Homo sapiens: one gene and its partner. The protein of the gene in region 2 binds, or shares a complex with, the protein of the main gene of each other region. Each region holds a gene or a part of one and is shown on either strand. Other genes may lie near its edges.

What was found. The genes of interacting proteins can lie anywhere in the genome.
Region 1: BOP1 (region 2) and PES1 share a complex: the UniProt entries of both Homo sapiens proteins name them as parts of the peBoW complex.

The regions. Positions count from the first base shown.
Region 1 is NC_000022.11:30,576,112-30,581,925, forward strand, and holds the end of PES1 (pescadillo homolog), read right to left. Parts: intron 5,534-5,814; coding exon 5,417-5,533; intron 5,298-5,416; coding exon 5,223-5,297; intron 4,991-5,222; coding exon 4,901-4,990; intron 4,591-4,900; coding exon 4,460-4,590; intron 4,068-4,459; coding exon 3,942-4,067; intron 3,825-3,941; coding exon 3,640-3,824; intron 3,193-3,639; coding exon 3,026-3,192; intron 2,888-3,025; coding exon 2,726-2,887; intron 1,019-2,725; coding exon 935-1,018; 3' UTR 514-934; downstream 1-513. UniProt on the Homo sapiens protein: Component of the PeBoW complex, which is required for maturation of 28S and 5.8S ribosomal RNAs and formation of the 60S ribosome.
Region 2 is NC_000008.11:144,288,432-144,296,040, forward strand, and holds the start of BOP1 (ribosome biogenesis protein BOP1), read right to left. Parts: upstream 3,008-7,609; 5' UTR 2,940-3,007; coding exon 2,841-2,939; intron 874-2,840; coding exon 664-873; intron 1-663. Other genes in the region: HSF1 (heat shock factor protein 1), read left to right, coding at 3,327-3,443. UniProt on the Homo sapiens protein: Component of the PeBoW complex, which is required for maturation of 28S and 5.8S ribosomal RNAs and formation of the 60S ribosome.

The DNA.
Region 1 (5,814 bases), on a different chromosome or scaffold from region 2:
CTGGGAGGTACTCAGCGGTTCTGCCAACGCGCCAAGGCAAGCTGAGGGCAGGACCTCACCGCAGACCCACAGATCCTTCCGGTTCTGGCTTTTACCTTCTGGGCCGAGTCCAGCAGGAAGTGATATAAATCAGTTGGTGTTTACCAAGTACTTACCACACACCTGATATTACCAAGTCCATAAGGTCTGAGACTATAAAGTTATCACAGAACCCTCAACACATCCCTTTCAAAGAACAGAATCTCTACCAGTAACTGACACATGAGGAAGCAGGTGCAGAGGGAAAATGCCTGGGTTAGAATGTGAACCATGGTCAGACAGGCTGTGAAGCCCAGGTCCAGAACCTCTGCACCTACCTTTTGGCATCCCTGGACCTGGAGGGGTCCTTGGACATCCAGAGAGCTCTGAGCAGTGCCCAGCTCTGTCTCAGTAAATACCCAGGGCTGGCCCAGCCTGCAGCATAGAGTGCTAGGTAGGCCTCCTCCAACCCTAGGAAGGCTCATGGACACAAAATGCAATTGGCACAAAAGTCCAGTCATTTAATAACAAATGCTCCCCCTACCCTCACCCCATCACAGCACCCTGAGAATCACGGGTCCAACTGTGTGGGAGGGGGCTGTGGAAAGCCAGGATGAATGGGGGCAGTAGGTAGGGGGCTGGGTGGGCCTCTGCACCTCATGTCACTGGCTCCTGGGAGCAGAGAATCAGGCTGGGCACAGAGGCCTCTTCTCTGACCAGGCACCAGCAGGGCAGCTCCATCCAAGGGAAGCGAGGGCTGCCCACTGGCCCAGCCAGAGAGCATGAGGGGTCAGGGCTGGCTGGAGAAAGGAGGAGGAGAAGTGACTCTGGTCCATCACACTTAGGTCCTCTGGCCTGCCTCTGCCACATCCAGCTGCTAGGGGCTGGCCTCAGCCCTGTGAGGGGCCGCAGGCACTCACTCCGGCCTTGCCTTCTTGGCCTTCTTCTCAGACCTCACCGCCTCATCGTGGGCTTTCCGCTTCTCCGCCAGCTTGTTGGCCTGTGAGGGGGAAGGCGAAGGTCAGGCTGAGGTATGTGTAGAAGGGAGGGTGGGGGGCACAGAACTCAAAGCTATATCCCTTAAAAGCAGAGCTTCAAGAAAAGGTCACAAATTCTCACAGGAAAAAAATCTACCTGACCCACTTCATGGTGAGAAAACATGCGCTAGCCCTGCTTTAACAACATTATTTCATGGGCCCACAAATCTCGAGATAAGAGAATCCTAAACTCCCAGAGCTGGAAGGAGCCTTGGCAACTGCCCCATTTCCCTACACCACCTGGGAAAGCTGGATGCCACTAGAACCTTCACCAGGAGCTGGTGGAAAGGGGTACAACAGGAAGAACCTTCTTTCCGGGGTCATCTGACAATATATTTTTAATTTTTTTAAAGGGACAGGGTCTTTCTCTGTTGCTCAGCCTGGAGCACAGTGGCACAATCATAGCTCACTGCAGCCTCAAACGATCCTCCCACTTCAGCCTCCGGAGTAGCTGGGATTGACTACAGGTGTGCACCACCATGCGTAGCCCTTTCTTTTTTTTTTTGGGGGGTAGAGACAGGGTCTCAATATGTTGCCAACGCTGGTCTTGAACTCCTAGCCTCAAGTGATCCTCCTGTCTTGGTATCCCAAAGTGCTGGGATTACAGGCGTGAGCCACCATGCCCAGACCCATTTGACAATAACTATTTCAAAACTGCAGCAATTATGCTTCTAAGAATTTAGCCTGCAGAATCATTAAGAGGCGGGCAGGAACATGCTCAGGGATGTTTTCTGAGAATGACTGAAACTGGAGAACAATCTAATCCCATCACAGGGGACAGGCCAGGTTTTGGATGAGAAGTCCATATTATGGTTAAATGAAAATTACAACTCAGGCTGGGTACAGTGGCTCATGCCTCTAACCCCAACACTTTAGGAGGCCAAGGCAGGCAGATCACTTGAGGTCAGGAGTCCAAGACCAGCCTGGCCAAGACAGTAAAACCCCGTCTCTACTAAAAATACAGAAATTAGCCAGGTGTGGTGGCACACGCCCTAATCCCAGCTACTCGGGAGGCTGAGGCAGGAGGATTGCTTGAACCTGTGAGACACAGTTTGCAGTGAGCAGAGATTGCTCCACTGCACTCTAGCCTGGGTGACAGAGGAAGACTCTGTCTCAAAAAACAAATTATATCTCAAAACAACCTATAGCATGACCTCCCAAACACGGGTCATTATGGGCACAAGAGAAACCTGGGGGCTGTTACTACAGGCTGCTCTATTCCAAGGGCAGGGCTGTGAGCCACTTCTGCATCACTCATCACAGGGTTCCAGGGTGCATGAGTTTGTATTTTTAATTAGCATATATGGCTTCATGAACAAGAAAATACAAAACAGATAGAAGTTTAACAAAGCTCCCCCCCGCCACCCCCGCCCCCAGTCCTTGAGTCTGCCGGGAAGGCTCTGTTTGCAGACCCCAGCAGACTCAGGAAGCCGGATGCGGGGTGGGACGGAAGCCGTAAGGAAAGCCCAGGCCGGAGATGGCAGTACCAAGACGCCTACACTGGCCCAGGTCGGGGGCCCCAAAGGCTGGGCTGGGCCAGGCAGGCAACCTCAGGAAAAGGCTAGGAGAGCCTCAGTCTGCCTAGAGGAGGGCCCCAAGCCACATAAGTTCACCTGTGCAGTTGGGTCTGGTGGCCACACCTGGATCTCAAGTGGGTGGCAAGAACTCACCTCTCGGATTTTTCGCCTCTTGCCAAACATGATCTTCTGGTACAGGTACTTCTCCCGCTTCTTCATCATCATAATGGCCAGGCGCTTGGCCTCACTCTCCTCCTCCTGGGCCAGCCGCTGCTTATCCTCCAGCTTCAAGGTGCCTGCCATCACCCTGGGCTTCTGGGGACACAAGGAGGGTGCTTATGGGGGCAGGTTCTCCCGACCTCCACAGTCCTCTGGCTCCTGACCTTCTAGGCCAGAGCAGGCACCAAGCAGGGCTGCTTCCCAGGCCAAGCCCCGCATTGCAGCTCCCCCTACCTTCCCCTCCATCCTCTGCTCTTCCAGGGCTGCCAGCCGGGCCTCTTCCTCCTTTTCTGAACCAGCCTCTGCATCTTCCTCCTCCTCCTCATTTTCTCCCTCTTCATCACCATCACCTTCGTTGTTGTCGTCCTCTTCCTCCTCCTCTTCTGACTCATTCAGGTTTCCTAGAGAAAGCCAATGTCCTCTGAATGCCCTGGGAATCTACTGTCTCTCTGGCAGGGTGACAACAGGCCCAGGCCCCATCCTCTCTGACCCTGCCGTCTTTAGCCATGGGCAGTTCAGGGATGTCCCAATTGTGGCCCTCTCTTGCACCTCCCCACAGCCCAGCTGCCATCAGAGGAAATTCCAAGACCCCCAGTCCTGAGCTCTGTCGCCTCCAATGTAAACTCTGATGACAATGCAGCATGTTCTTCTGCTCAGTCATCCTGAACGTCAAATAACACCTGACCCCAGGAGGTAGATGTCCCTTCTCCTAAGCCTTATTCTACAGGTGACTTCAAAGGGCTTTCTGCTCCTACTGCCTGTTCCCTGGAGCTTTCCACCTTGGCAGCTAAGGGAAACAGCCAGCGTGGGCCCAGGGGTCAAGGCCAGCCCAGTCCCATCCCGCTCACCTGGGTCCTCTCCCCGCTGCAGAGCCAGCAGCTTCAGCTTCTCAGGTGGAACGTAATCTCCTTCCTTCTCGGTCACAAAGGGTGAAAGGTGTGGGGGCAGCTGCACCCCAGAGAAGTACTCTGCCACGGGGAGAAGGAGCCTGGCGTTCACTGAGTCAAACACCCACTGGGGCTGCACGTAGCACCTGGCGCAGAGTGGCAGGCAAAAACGAGTCACAGAGGGCAACTCAGGGTCCTGCTGCATCGCAGGGCCTTTGAGACAGGATACCCAGAAATCCGGACGAGGACCCTTGAGGGCCTACCTGCCAATGACTGAGGTCTGCTGCCCAGGCCGGTCGACAATCTGATGGGTGATGCGGGAGTCTGTGACGTCATAGGTGGCCCCAATGCACAAAGATTTGTCCCAGGACACTTCCCCACCAAAACTCCTACAGGGACAGGGAGAGCCCACACGGGTACACAGACATGAGCTGCCTGTCCTGAGACTCAGCTCCCTGGGACCTGCTGGCCACCCAGCCCATAAACTCACCCTCTTAGGACACAATTACCCCCTCCTCACCCCAGGATCCTTCAATCCTGGCTCAGCAGAGATCTGCCCACTGCCCATCCTTCTGTGCTAAGCTAGTAATAAAATGACGGCAGTTCCGCCCTCTGCTGAGCACTTCCTATGTGCTCAGTGCGGTGCCGAGCACTTTCCACACACTGTTTCATAAGAAGTGGAAACTGACACCATCCCAATGTTACCGATGGGCACCAGGGCAGGACCCAGACCAGAGCATGGCCGAACCAATGCTGTCAGCGGGCCCTTGAGCCTCCCTACCTGATGATGAAGGCCAGGGCCTCACGGGGCACCTCTCGGTTCAGGAAGAACTTCAGGCCCTCAAAAAGCTTCTTGTGCTTCTCCTGCGCCTCCAGCTCCTTCCTGCGGTCTTCCTCCTGCGCTGACATCTCCTGTTGAGAAAGGGGCCAGGCCTCGCACCACCAGGGCTGCCCACCCCCACTGGAGGGCCAGGGCTGGAGATAACGTCCACTCCAGCTTCCTTCTAGATCCTGGATCCTGCCTTCAAAGGAAACTCCAAGGCCCCACTCCTGAGCTCTGTTGCCTCCTATGTAAACTCTGATGACAATTCAGCCCATTCTTCTGCTCAGTTGCTTTGACCATCAAATAACACCTAATTATAGGATGCAAATGTCCCTAAGCTGGGAAACCCCCCACACGACCCCTCCCAGCCCTCCTGCCAGAAGGCAGTGCAGTGCTCACCCCATCGGTGGGAAACTCATCCACCTCGGCCTCCTCCTCTGTGGCAGGCACCACCACGCGGGCCAGGCTGGCACTGAGGGCTGCCAGTTTCTACAGGAGAGAAGGGGGCTGCTTGCAGTGGGGGACCTCATGCGGGCATGTGGCCAGGGTGGGGAGGGGCAGCAGTGACAGTCCTGGGCATCAGCAGGTGTGGGTTCCAAGGGCAGGCTGAGACCACCCACCTAGCCATAACCACCCCCACTCTGAACCAGACCCCCAGAGGTGTTGGGGACAGAGACCACTCCCTTGGGAGATGCCGGATGATGCTCCTGGAGCCTCTCACCTCCATACAACTCTCGGAGTCCAACGCGTAGGTGCCCTCACCGGCCTTTGCCTCTGCTTGGGCCTGACCCTCGAGCTAGTAGGCAAAGGGAAGGTCAGGAGGCAGAGGACAGCCACAGCCCCTCGCCTCTGTGTGGACAGAGAAGGGCTGTGGCCCCTGCACGGCGAGCAGAAGGCACTGGGCTGGGGTCCTACCTTCGGGGGATAGTGGAGGTTGAGCAACTGGTAAAGGCGGAAGTTGACAAAGCCCAGCAGCGTGGTGTAGAACTCGGTGAAGGTGGCCATGACCCTGTAGTCCACGTCTGTCGGGTGCTGGGGAACACAAGAGATGCATGAGCAGTGTGGGTGCAGGGATGGGGGCAAAGGAGGGACAGACAACCCACAGAGTGGAGGGTGTCTGACCTACCCAAAGACCCCAAGCTCCTCAAGAAGGCTCTGCCCTTAAGGCGCTGCCCTAGGGAAGGGGTGGCATGGATCTTCCCACCAGGGGCGTTCCGGCCACAAGTGTTCCCAGCCACAAGTGAGGCTCTGGATAGGGGTCCCAAGGGTTAGACGCATCCTGGAAGTCAGTGCCAGACCCCCATAAAAGAGTG
Region 2 (7,609 bases):
GCAGGAGAATTACTTGAACCCAGGGGATGGAGGTTGCAGTGAGCCAAGATCACACCACTGCACTCCAGCCTGGGCGACAGAGTGAGACTCTGTCTCAAAAAAATAAAAAATAAAAAAAAATAACAAATGCTGTGTTTTAGTTAAATTATGCTTTTCTCCTGTTGTTCTCAATAAGAGTAGGGTGCATCCTCCCCCACCATCGCTGCAACAGGTACAATGTTAAACCCTCTACCCGTCGGCTGCTCAGGCCCCTGAAGCCCTGTGGGGTCAGGCCCAGCTGGGTTCCGTTGGGGCCCCCATGCCGCCTGCTTGAGCCCTGCCATGCTGCTCAGCTCCCTCCTCAGCTGGGTCCTGCCACTGGATTCCAAGCAGTAAAATCCCCACCTCAAGGAAACCCAACCTGTTGCCAGGAGGGTTGCCCGAGCATCGTCTGACGGGGAAGGGCCTAGGCATGTGGATTTTCAGAGTTCCTGGGAACGGCACGCAACTGGGGATGGAAACCAGCGTCCTAGAGCCCAAGCGTGCCCCAGGTGCAGTGAAGGAGGGACGCCGGCCTTGGGGTTCTGAGGGACGGTGGAGAAGGCAGTACAGTGGCAGTCTCAGAAAGCCCAAGGCCACCTGCACATGGGGGACAGCCCTCGAGGGGGCTCCTCGCTCACCCACCTGCACCTGCTCCTCAGTGGTCTTTTTAATCCCACTGTGGCCCTCGTCATCAAGGGCTCCGTCCTCTCCCTCCTCGTCGCCTTCGTCATCATCCTCACTGCTGTCACTGCCGGAATCTTCCAGGCCTGAGAACACACTTTCCTCGCTGTCGGAGACGCCAGAATCGCTGCCGGTGCTGTGGCTGAGAGGAGAGGTGCAGAGGAGGGGGGGCTGCAAGGAAACACTGGGTTGGTGACAACTGCCCCTCCAGGCATGGGGCACTGAACACTGCAGGGAGAGCTGCCTCTCGCCCCTCCAGCCACCCACCAGCAGCTCCATGTGGCCTCCAGGACCACACCCCTCCAGTCACAAACTTCCACCAAAAGCATCCACCCAACCTGAGCCTTCCTCATCTTCTACCTCCACTGACAAGACAGCCTCTTGCCTTTGCCATCGACATTTTAATTCCTAGCACCTCACAGGGAAGGGGCTTTTCAAGGACAACCTCCTCCTCTTGGAGCTCAGCTCTCATCGCAAAACTAACACTGCTCTCTACCACCCACTGACACTCCGGAGGCCCTGTGGGGTCAGGCTGGGCTGGACTCCACTGGGTCCCTCAGACAGCCTGCCTGAGCCCTCTCCACACCTCACCCTGGCATCCAAGGCCCCAGAGCCAAGAGGTCACTAGAAAAGGGGCTGGGGGCTGGAAGAGAAATGGGTCCCCAAAGGGCTTTTACCACCTGAAGCAGACGCCTCCTCATTTAACCAGATTGGGACCAACGATTGATCAGTAAATTGAAAGGATTGGCTGAAGAGTCACAGGAATGATAGAGACTCTAACCGCAACCACGCACCAACCCACCCACTCCTCTCTCTGAGCAGGACCACAGCTGCCTCTGAGCAGAGCCCTGCTGGCTGCGTGACACCGGCACACACAGTGTTCGGGTCCTTCACTGGCCTTAAAGGGTGGAACAAGAACTTAGACTCTTAGGAAGCAGTTGAAGGCCAGGCACAGTGGCTCACTCCTGTAATCCCAACACTTTGGGAGGCTGAGGCGGGTGGATCACCTGAGGTCAGGAGTTCAAGACCAGCCTGGCCAACATGGTGAAACCATCTCTACTAAAAATACAAAAATTAGCTGGTGGTGGCGGGCACCTCTAATCCCAGCTACTCAGGAGGCTGAGTTAGCCAGGAGGTGGAAGCTGCAGTGAGCCAAGACTGCACCACTGCACTCTAGCCTGGGCAACAGAGCCAGGCTCTGTCTCAAAAAAAAAAAAAAGAAAAAAGAAAGAAAAGGAAAAGAAAAGAAAAAGGAAGCAGTTGAATGCAGAATTCTAGATTTTACTGTTTTCCTAATAGTTTACAAGTCTCACTTAAGGTACGACCTGCATGTATTAGCTATTGCATACCGAGTGTTCACACAATGCCTCTCTCACACAGAGTCATGATGTGTCTTGGTATTCAGTCGGCTACACAATCACAATAACTAGTGGAAATGGCATCCGTGGCCTGGGCGCAAACAACTGGCTCCTGAGGACCGTTTAGTCCAAGGGTGGAAGTCGCAGAACCTGGCGCCTAGAGTGGCCTGCGGGCCATTCAGCCCATGGGAGCCAGGATGAGTTGAATTCGCTTCACAAAGCAATGGGGCAGTTTCAACAACCCAGCGCGGCCGCGGCCGAGGGGGCTGTGAGGGGCTGGCTGTCCATCCCCTCCACCACCCAATTTGATGATCCCCACAACCAAGACAGGGCTGAGCTAGCAGAGAGCAACAGTGAGTTCTAATACAGCAAATGCAGCAGACACTGGGTTCTATTCAGGTTTTCTTATTCTCATGTCTATCCCATGAGCATAAAAACGCAATTAACTAGCGTATACGTAGGTTAAGCATTTACTGGGAGCGCAAGCCGAGCCCTTTTATTGGCAGGATGCACAAATGGAACGGCTGGAGAGGCTGCTGCAAGGGGCGCCCCGTCCCCACTCCCCGCTCCCCCGTTTCTTTGCTTCCCGGACGCCGTCCTTTACCCCGCAGTCCGCTCTGCCTGAGACCCCCCGATAGAGGAGCTGCACCCACGCCCAAGACCGATTCACTGGGCGCGGGCGCCCAGGTGACAGAAGCCGGGCCCACCCGCCCCAGCGCGGCCACGTGCCCGCCGGGCCCTCTAGGGACGCGCCCCGCCGCCCCGCATCGCCACAGTCACCTCCGGCTCGGGCTCAGGCTCCAGTTCGGGCTCAGACCGCCGCTTCTCCGGCCGCACGCTCGGCGCCGCCGTGCGCCCCGCACCCCGCGAACCCGCCATGCCCCACCGCGCGCCGGCCGCCACCCGCACAGCCGCTTCCGACAGCGACCGGGCCGCGTGCGCAGGAGGACGCGCCCCGCCCAGCCCGGCCCCGATTGGCGGGTGGAGGGAAGGGGGTGGGACCAACACGCGCAGGCGCGCGGCTGGGCCGGGGACCAGGGCGGGGTCGGGGCCTGCGTGCTCGCGCCGGGGGTGACGCGGGAGGGCGGCAGCGGCGGCGGCGGGAGCGCGCCCGTTGCAAGATGGCGGCGGCCATGCTGGGCCCCGGGGCTGTGTGTGCGCAGCGGGCGGCGGCGCGGCCCGGAAGGCTGGCGCGGCGACGGCGTTAGCCCGGCCCTCGGCCCCTCTTTGCGGCCGCTCCCTCCGCCTATTCCCTCCTTGCTCGAGATGGATCTGCCCGTGGGCCCCGGCGCGGCGGGGCCCAGCAACGTCCCGGCCTTCCTGACCAAGCTGTGGACCCTCGTGAGCGACCCGGACACCGACGCGCTCATCTGCTGGAGCCCGGTGAGGGCAGCGCGCGGGCGCGGGGCCCGTGGGGACCGGGAGGGAGCAGGGCCGCGGCGGACGGCGCGGGAGGGCTGCGGGGAGGGGCCCTGCCGCACTTCAGCTTACGCGCGGTGAGCCTGCCCTGCCCCCGCCAGAGAAGGGCGGCGGGTCCCGAGCCTGCTCAGACCCAGAGCCTTAAGTTGGGAAAGCGGCTACGAGACCCACACTCGGTTCAACCCCTGCCCCAGCGAAGTTTCCCTGGGATGGGGAGAATGGGGCGTCTCTTGTATTGGGCTTCTGCTAACTGTTGGGCGGTTGCGGAAGTGTCCGCGCTTAGGGCAAGCACCCGGCTTCGCCAGCGGACGCTATGCCCCAGAGGACATCGGCGTCCCCAGGGGACAGCCTACGGGGTGCTGGGTCGGCAACTATTAGGAGAAAGTCAGGACTTGGCACGTGAAGTGGAGGGCGTTGCTGTAGTGGAACAGGAAAGGCAGTGGAAACAGTAAGACGTCATGAAGCTTCAGGTTGATCTCAAGCCCGTTTCCGAATCCCAAATCTGGGTTTCCCAAGAGGAGTTTTGTTTTTCATTCCTTATGGGGCATCTTTATTCGTGTTTCTGTCTTCAGTTGCCTGGCAGCAGGCTTGTTTACATGGTCCGACCCTGCAAGACCGGACAGCTCCGGTTTGCAGAAGTAAATCAGTGATTGTCTGGAGTTGGAGATCAGAATCTGCTGTTCACATCCCGGCTGTGACGTCGTGTCCGGTGAGGGGCAGAGCCACCGCCTGCGGCTGGCAAGTGATGACCTGAAGAAGGGCCACACTGGCCGAGTGGGGTGACTCTTGCTTGTAATCCCAGCACTTTGGGAGGCGGAGGCGGGTGGATCACTTGAGGCCAGGAGTTCGAGACCAGCCCGGACAATATGGCAAAACCCCAGCTCTACTAAAAATACAAAAAATTTGCCGGGCGTGGTGGTGCTTGCCTGTGGTCTTAGCTACTTGGGAGGCTGAGATAGGAGGACTCCCTGGACCTGGGAGGCAGAGGTTGCACTGAACCAAGATCCCGCCACTGCAGCCTGGCAAAGAGTGAGACCCTGTCTAAGAAAAAAAAGAAAAAAAAGAAAGGCCACTGATCATTGGGAGCTTTTGGAGGCACCGTGACCGGCAGGGTGCCACCAAGCATGTGTGGCCTCCCAGGAGCTAAGACCCCAGAGTTCTTCAGGCTCTGCTGAGTGCCTCCCATTTGCACAGCCTCTTTATGCTGTTAGGAATGAAGAAAAGTCTAAACTGAAGCTGCCCCAGGCAGGAGGCCAGGTTTTCTGCTTCTTGGGTTTACTGAGGCTCTGCTTTACCTACAGAGTGTTTGGAAATAAAGAGAAGACTGGAAATCTTTGCTCTTGTTAGAAACACTTTGTGTTTGTCCCGCTGACACCTCTGTGTTGGCCTTCCCATCCCCAGGTCCCATTAAGGCACAGTGCACCTTCCTGGAGGCTGGCTTCATTTCACCATCTCTTCATTCTAGACCTTGGATTCTTGTGCAAAGGAAATACTCCCATGTTTCTGTCTTCTTTTATCCGTCTTTTTCTTTTTTCTTTTTTTTTTTTTTAGACCGAGTCTTGCTCTGTCACCCAGGTTGGAGTGCAGTGGTGCGATCTCGGCTCACTGCGACCTCCACCTCCCGGGTTCAAGCAATTCTGCCTCAGCCTCCCGAGTAGCCAGGACTACAGGTGCGTGCTGCCACACCCGGCTGATTGTTGTATTTTTAGTAGAGACGGGGTTTCACCACATTGGACAGGCTGGTCTGGAACTCCTGACCTCAAGTTATCCACCCGCCTTGGCCTCCCAAAGTGCTGGGATTACTGGTGTGAGCCACTGCACCCAGCCCTTCTTCTTTTTCTTATTCCCCTTAATCCTCAGAAGTTAAGGGGAATAACTCCCCCATTGGGGGAGGGGCATCCGCGATTATCTGGGATATTCTAAGCTTAATCCTACTAGCGTGATCTGTCCTGTCCCGTAATCTGCTTGCTGTTTCTGCTTAAAGATTATGAGGCATGTGGGTTAGGGCCCAGTGTACCCTTTTTTGGGACCGAGGCATGTTCTGGGCAGGGCTTTTGAGCAAGGAAGGCAGGTGTGATGAGGCCCGTGGCCAGCCTCCACTCCACTCACAGGTGCACCACCTGTGGATCTGTTCTCCCTGGGGAGGGATGGGGAGCCAACTGGAATGTGAGTGTTTGGTTCCACCTGGTCAGTATGAAGTGGCAATGGTTGGTGCAGGACGTAGCACTGGGGGCGAGCATGGCAATGAGACAGAAACACTGACTTAAAACTGGAAGGAAGCCCTTCTCCAGGCCGCGCAGGGGGCTGCAGAGCTTTCCGGCGCTGGCTGCCTGGCCTGGAGAAAGGAGGTGATCATCCCATCCTGTGACTTTGAGAGCACTCACACAAGCCCTGAGGACTCCCTGTCAGCAGAGTCCCAACAGGGCACCCTCCCACAAATCTACTGCCCAGGCCCAGCTGGCTCTCGGAGGCCTTGAGAAGGCCCTGGTGCTCTTGCTCTCTGCTGCCTTCTCTGGGAGAGTCTCCTTCTGGCTCAGAGTCTTACCACCATTCTGCCAAGAAAAACCCTCCCTATTTGACACAAGAAGATGAGGCAGAATCACAGGCATGGTGACTAACTCTCAAGGCTGAATAACCTGGGGGAGACCGAGGCCCAGAAACTGGCCAGTAACTTTACTGAGCCTGGCCAGGAATGGGACCAGGTCTGGACCACCATTGCACGTCCCCTCCCTGGCCTGAGATCAGGACTCCCACTGCAGCCACTGGAGGCAGAATGCCGGGTCACTGCCCAGGAGACCCCATTGGTGGGGACTGTGGCAGCTACCCCATCCCTGTGTTGTTTGATTTCCCACCCCCCCCTCCCAAGACCCTCATTCCCATGAGCACCCCACCCACACAGGCAAGGGCCTTGAGGGGACCCAGCAAGTCGTGGAGGACAGCACAGCCTTGGAGAGGAAATGTGTCAGCCACAAGGTTATGATCCCGGGGATCCACATAAGAGCATGGGCGTGCACGTGGGTGGTCCTCCCTCAGCCAGCTTCTCAACAGCTTCTCCCAAAGGTACACCTGGATCCAGTACCACTGAGACCCAAAGACGGGGTTGGGGGACTGAATACCTGGACTGACAGGCACCTCCATAGAACTGAGACCCATGAGACCCGGGACCCGCAGCCTCCCTGCCCCGTGCCCTGGTGCCGGCCCTCAGCCCAGCTTCCTCGTCTGCATGCAGCAGCTCCTCTGTCCACCAGCAGAGGCTCTTCTAGGGCCTTGCTGGGCTGCAGCTGACTCAGGAGGGCAACAGCCTCTTCAGAGAATTTGACAGCATGGAGAACCAAACAAAAGCAGAAAGTGAAGCCTCAGAACTGGGTTCACCATCATCCCAGTTTTTTACAAGCTATGATTTTGTCCCATCTTTATTAACAAGATAAGGAAGTATGAAAAGTAATCTCGACATCTGAGATGGTGAGATTACAGCCCCAGGAGCCACCCAGCTGGCTGAGGAGCCTGAGAACAAGGCACAGCCACATGACCTGTGCCAGACAAATGCTAGAATGATGGTCACGCAGGTTAGAACGAACCCAGGTAGACGGAGGCCTCAGGATCAGGGTGAGGCCAGAGGGGGCACCTGGGTGCAAAATTTAAGGAAGCACTTTTTGTTTTTTAGATAAGGTCTCGCTCTGTTGCCCAGGCTGGAGTGCAGGGCTATGATTGCAGCTCGCTGCAGCCTCTGCCTCCCAGGCTCAAGTGATCCAGTCACCTCAGCTGAGTCACTGGGACTACAGGCTTGCACCACCAGACCTGGCTTTTTTTTTTTTTTCTTTTTAAGGTTTTAGTAGAGACAGGGTCTCGCCGTATTGCCCAAGCTAGTCTGGAACTCACGGGCTCAAGCCATCCTCCCATCTCAGCCTCCCGAAGTGCTGGGATTACAGGCTTGAGCCACCGCGCCTGGCCCTGAGGCATTCCTTTTTAAGACCTACCTGCATTCGGATGGCGCTGGGAGTGGGGGCCTCCTTAGATGTGGGCTCCTGGATGCTTCTCTGTCTTCACCTGGCCCCAGCCTCATGGGTGCAGCTGGAAAGACTCTAGAAGGATGTGCTGAAACCCTGGGGCTCCCTGAGACTGAGTGAGCT